Linked DNA regions of Homo sapiens: region 2 is linked to region 1. Evidence: fine-mapped expression QTL. A gene starts in region 1. The other region holds a variant in brackets. All regions are shown on one strand. Distances are from middle to middle.

Region 1 (2,903 bases):
GACTCATTTAACCTTCCCAAATAAGTTGATACTCAAAAGCCGCCAGCTCGTCATTTGCACATCAAAAGGGAGTACAGCTGCACTCAAGCCTTTAACTGCCCTGCATCAGTCCCTCGCGGATCTTTGTGAGGGTCCACTCCCTGCTTTCTAGCCCGAGCAGCACTCAGAAAGAGCCCATAACGCACGGGCATCTTCCTCCCCACAAACCGCGACTCCAGGGACCGAGCTGCTGACGAAGGGAAGGTAGGTGTGGAGGGGAAACGACGGACACCTCCCACCCCCGCCCCCAACCCTTCTCCTTCCCTAGGCTTTGGCCCCTGCCCTAGGCAAGGATGCGCGACGCCGAGGGCAGCAGCGGCGCAGCTCCGCGTCCCGGCTGGAGAGGCGGGCGCCCCTCACCCTCTGCCCGCGCCCCCGGGGCTGCGCCAAGGCATCCGCCAGAGCGTCCCGGGGGCTCCCTCCCCACTTTTCCGAGAGCCGCTGGTTAACCGGCAGCAGTTGCAGCAACAGGCCCGGGTGAACGAGCAGGGACAGCCGCGGAGCCTCCTCAGATCCCGCGCGCAGCCCAGCCCAAGACCCCGAGGCGCGCGGGGCCCGGCTCCCAAAACGCCCCCTTACCCCAGGCGGGAGCAGAGGCGGTCTCCGCCGCTCCCCGTCGCAGCTGCCAAAGCCACAGCCCTCAGCCGCAGCTGCCCCACGATGGGGGAGTGGGAAGGGTGGCTGAGTGGAGGATGCTACTCCCGACCGAACGGAGAGGAAGAAACGGAAACAGGAACCGCCGCCGCCGCTTAACGGAGCCTTCGGCGCCACTGACTGAGGCAGAGCGCGAGGCGGCGCGAGCCGGGCAGTCGCTGACAGCGCGAGACCGAGAGCGAGCTGGGTCCAGGGCGCGCGACCCTGAGCAGTGCCGGCCCCATTCCGCGGGGAGACGAAGGGACGGGTCGGCTGGGGCCAGGCGGCGGGGGTGGGATGGGGAGGGGGCCTGGAGAGGAGGGAACCGGCTGCTCGGGTCGGCCGGAGATAACGCGCGCACGCGCCGGAGCGGCTCTGACAACGAGCGCAGGCGGGGAAGCCTCGGCCAGCGCCGGCGTGCGCGCGCGAATGGGGGAGCGCGCCCCTCGGCGTTCCTGGCTTCTGGGAGAGGGCGCGCATGCGCCGGCCGCTGCCACCTACGGCGACCCTGGCATGTGCCAGGGATTCTCCCCGCCCCCTTCCTCGCTGCGCCGGTGGAGAGCGTAGCAGCAGCATCCACCGCCTAGCAGAGCCGCGGGCCACAGCGGGACGGCACAGTTCCAGCAGGGCAGCGGCTGCGCACGCCGGCTCCGGCTCGCACACAGGCGTAGGCCGCCCTCTACCGCCTGAAGGCCGGAGGCTGAGCGGGGCGCGAGCGGATCCTGGATCCCGGGAGGAGACTCGCCTCCAGAGAATGCTGTGCTCCCTACAGCGCCGGGAATGGACCGGCCCGTGCCAGCTCAGTCGGCGGCCCTAGGGGGCACCCGCACTAGAGGTTTTGAAGCTGGCTCCTTGCTACTTTTAGGGGTGCGCGCTGCTGCTGCTCAGCCCCTGCAGCCCGCATTTGGCCGCTTGACTGCTGCTTCCAGCGCGATCCTACAATGGCATCGCTCCCCCAGGAGACTCAGCGAAGCCCTACTTTATCTTGTAAGAGCTGTTTCCACATTCACTCGAAGAGAAAGACCCCCCCCACGAGGGCCTGAGTTCGATGCCCGGCCTCTCCCGACCCGCGGCTGCGACAGCCCCTCTGAGGCGGAAGTTTATTTAGTACGGGAAAGAGAACAGCACGGGGAGAGGGGAGAGGCTTTGCCCTAGGATGCGTCCTACCCGCTCGGACTCGGAAAATTCCCGGCGCCCGCGATGCAGAGCAGTGGACCGAAGGGCTGCCCCAGAGCAGCCCAGACCGCCAGCTGAGCGGGAGGACCGGAGCGCGCCGCCCCAGCACACAAAGTAGTCGCGGGACGAGGGGTGCCGCCGAGGCCAATCAGAGCTGCGCGCCGCGTGAGTGGAGTGCGAGCCGGCCAATCAGAGGGCCGGAAGATGAGCTTCCCGTTCCAAACTCTTCCCTGTAGCCTTGGGACCCAGATCCCAAGCCTGGGGCGCTTTACGGTGGGAGAGCGAAATGGTGCCCTTAAGACAAGAATCATTTCTCTAGGCTTGGGCATTTTAAAGTACATACCGGGGATACTTATCCCAAAGCAAGTAGCGGCGGCCTTTTAGATGTTAAATATTAAAAGATCACAGAAAGGAGATTTAAGAGGCAGTGGCCTGTCAAGGTTGCAATCTGCCTAATATTCATAAATTCACATATTTATTGAGACCTTCTTATGTACCAGGAACTCTATCACAGATACACAAATAAGGTACTGCTGATTCAAAAGAAAATCCCTTGTCCTCAAGCAGCTCAGGTTGTGAGGGAGGCTTTCCTAGACCTTGAGACTCGTATTTATTGTCAGCTCTTTAAACAAAAAGCACTCTATGAAGTGCTGTACTTTACAGTCGTTTTTATGATTATCTCCCTGTGAGAAAAGAAAATTGAAAGGAAAGTAGAGTGACTTGTCCAAGATCACACAGAAGATGTACTAGCAGAGCCAGAATTATGTTCTAGCTCAGTTTGGGTGTCATCATTCAATAAAATAATTCAATAACAATTTGTAAATGCATGGATGCTCTCTCCCATGAGATTTCTGTACTAAACGTATAAGCAGGACAAAATTCTGGTATAAAAGTGACACACTTTGGTTGTTGGAAATGAACACAAATTTTAGACTTATGTGGGATTAAAGGTAAAAATCTTACCAGTCATACTTTAGATAATTTTTAGAAGTCAGAGGTGGGGTGGATATTTACTTCTTAGTTTAAACACAGCATTTTAAAAATATTTTAACAAG
Region 2 (2,903 bases), 90 kb before region 1:
AATCAAAATGCTTTGTTAAGGATCCTAACATTGAGCTTTTTTCTTCACCCATCTGTAGGAATCCCCTGAATCCTTAACTTCCATTTTAACTCTCTCACCCCAGCTAATTGTGAGACACATTATCTGTCTAGTTGTAGCCTGAATTAAAAACTTAAGGATAACATTCACATAGTATCAACAGACAAAAGGAACCTAGAACCTTTCAAAATCTAGGTCTGTAAAGACAAAAGGAAAGATCCAGGAAGGCAGGGAGGGAAGGGCAGAGAGAGGCTCTTGAAGGATGGCAACCAAATGAAAGATTACCTTTCTATTTGTGTTAGCAGATAGAAATTACTGAAAGTAAAATCTAGATGTAAAGAGAAATTAACAATTTCATAAATTTGGGCTCTATTCAAAGTTTCATTTGGCTCAAGGCAAGATGCTGTGTTTTAATGACAAGTTTAAGTATATGAAACTGTCAAAAGCAGAGAAATGCCATCAGTATGAAATTCACACTAAACACACTTTTTGAAATCTGCAGATGTCCTATCATCAGGAACAATCAATAAATAAGAGTAACAATGGCTTTAATGAAAGCAAGTTATCTGATGCATGAATTTGTTAATTGTTCTATTCTGTCCTCCATTACTCAGTTTCCCTTAAATATGTACACAATTACCAAGCAGTCTCACGCCTTCCAGGAAAATTACAAGTGATAGGCACATTTCTGCATTCAGGGCAGCATTATATTATGGAAGAAAATTTAACCTATTCAGAAGCATATATTTCTCTGATCCTACCTGGAAAGAAACAGCTATAAATAGCTCTACTAAAATTGCTCAAAATATTTCTAGACGGGCAGGCTTACAATAGAAACTCTTACTTTATGATCACTCACCACTCAACCATCCAAGTCCAACACTGGATCTAAGCCAAACCAGTAGTTCTCAAGGGAGGGAAGGGAGTTAAAAAAGTCTGGTCTAGGGACCAGTAGCTCCAGCCTCCCCTGGGAGCTTGTTAGAAATGCACAATCTCAGGCCTTACCCAGGGACATATTGAATCAGAATCAGTATTTTACCAAGATCCTCAACTGATTCATATACACATTAAAATTGAAGAAGCTCTGCAGGAGGGGGAATTTTTGAATGAGTAAAAAAGGCATAATCTTTTCAGAGGTTGGTTACCACTGCAGACCACTGTTTGGCTAATAAGCAACCAATTTTAAAACTTTGTTTATGGGTAACATCATTACTTTTACCATTATTTATTTTACATTTTAAATAAGGGCTTTTAAAAAACAGAAATACCTCAAGAGGCAAAGAAGGAGTATCTAATGATTAAATGTAAGTTACCAAAAAAAGCTGTAACAGAATTATCTCAGAATAAGTGGACCCGGGCCGGGCACGGTGGCTCACACCTGTAATCCCAGCACTATGGGAGCCTAAGGCGGACAGATCACTTGAGGTCTGGAGTTCGAGACCAGCCTGGGCAACATGGTGAAACCCTGTCTCTACTAAAAAGACAAAAATTAGCCAGGCATGGTGGTGGGTGCCTATAATCCCAGCTACTCGGGAGGCTGAGGCAGGAGAATCACTTGAACCTGGGGGGTGGAGATTGCAGTGAGCTGAGATCCCACCACTGCACCCCAGCCTGAGTGACAGAGTGAGATTCTGTCTCAAAAA[A/C]AAAAATAACAATAAATAAGTGGACCCAGCCAGGCATGGTGGCTCACACCTGTAATCCCAGACCACTTGGAGGCCAACATGGGTGAATCACTCGAGGCCAGGAGTTCGAGACCAGCCTGGCCAACATAGCAAAACCTCGTCTCTACAAAAAATACAAAAATTAGCTGGGTGTGGTGGCAGGTGCCTGTAGTCCCAGCTACTTGGGTGGCTGAGGTGAGAGGACTGCTTGAGTTTGGGAGCTCGGGACTACAGAGAGCCAAGATTACACCACTATATTCCAGCCTGGGCATCAGAGCAAGACACTGTCTCAAAAAAAAAAAAGAAAGAAAAGAAAAGACAAAGTAGACCCGTCTCATGCCCCCTCCCCCATCACATTAACTAAACAAATTAATTTTTTAAATAATAATAACAACTTTCCTTCCAAACCCTCAGCATTAAGAATATCTGGGTCTGGGGTCCAAGTAGCTAGGAAAAGAGACCAAGAGACCAAAGGCCTATGGCCTCCTTTGACCAGAAGAGAAGGCTATATATACTGGTTATTCAGCTATTTTCTCTCAGATCCAAATCTACCCTTTAATACTCATCTTTGTAATACTGAAAATAAAACTCTGAAAACTACTTTTCTCTTCTGCAGCTAGCTTCCTCACACTGCCAATAAGGACACTAGAGGGAGAATGCAGTACATGCTTTTTCCAGTCAGCATTGCCCAGCATAGATCCTCCACCCCAGCAGTAGCAGTGATAACCACCAGCTTTTTCTGGCACTCTCAGAAATTCCCCTCAGACATACCAACAGCTGTCAGGAAGTACCCCCTCCAGAGGTTTTGAACCCCAATTCTATGAGGTCCCAACTCCAAGTTCTTATTTCCCCCTCAACCATATGAATAGTGGCTAATTCCTGCAAATATTGTCTCTGTGTTACCCCAGTGTTCCCTGTTTGCTTTTTCAGCCCTCCAATACCTGTATAATCCCTTCCCTGTATTAAATTTTCTGGGCTGAAATTTTTTGTTTTTGTTTGTAATTCTGTAGAGACAGGTCTTACTATGTTACCCAGGCTGGTCTCAAACTCCTGGTCTCAAGAAATCCTCCTGCCTCGAGTATTTAGTGTGGACTGTTTTCCTGACCTGATCCTAACTGAGCCATCATGGCTAGATGGAATAAAATTTAACATGATCTTGATCGCTTTGGAAAACGGTCTTCCCAAACATGGTAAGTCCATAAGAAAATATTTACTGCCTCTCCT

The links.
Region 2: its variant is fine-mapped to the expression of FUT8-AS1 in whole blood (TOPMed, PIP 0.94).

The regions. Positions count from the first base shown.
Region 1 is chr14:65,410,930-65,413,832 of GRCh38, reverse strand. FUT8-AS1 (FUT8 antisense RNA 1) reads left to right here and starts at 1,216. Exons shown (of 1, transcript NR_024334.1): 1 at 1,216-2,903. FUT8 (fucosyltransferase 8) reads right to left here and starts at 1,103. Exons shown (of 11, transcript NM_001371533.1): 1 at 619-1,103. RefSeq lists enhancers at 1-362, 1,605-1,924 and silencers at 285-474, 485-604, 905-1,064.
Region 2 is chr14:65,500,996-65,503,898 of GRCh38, reverse strand. The region is part of intron 2 of FUT8 (fucosyltransferase 8); the gene reads right to left. Among named protein-coding and RNA genes, the nearest start is that of MIR625, 31 kb to the right of the region's middle. RefSeq lists enhancers at 2,149-2,318, 2,349-2,408. The variant A/C (reference allele first, on the strand shown) is at 1,662.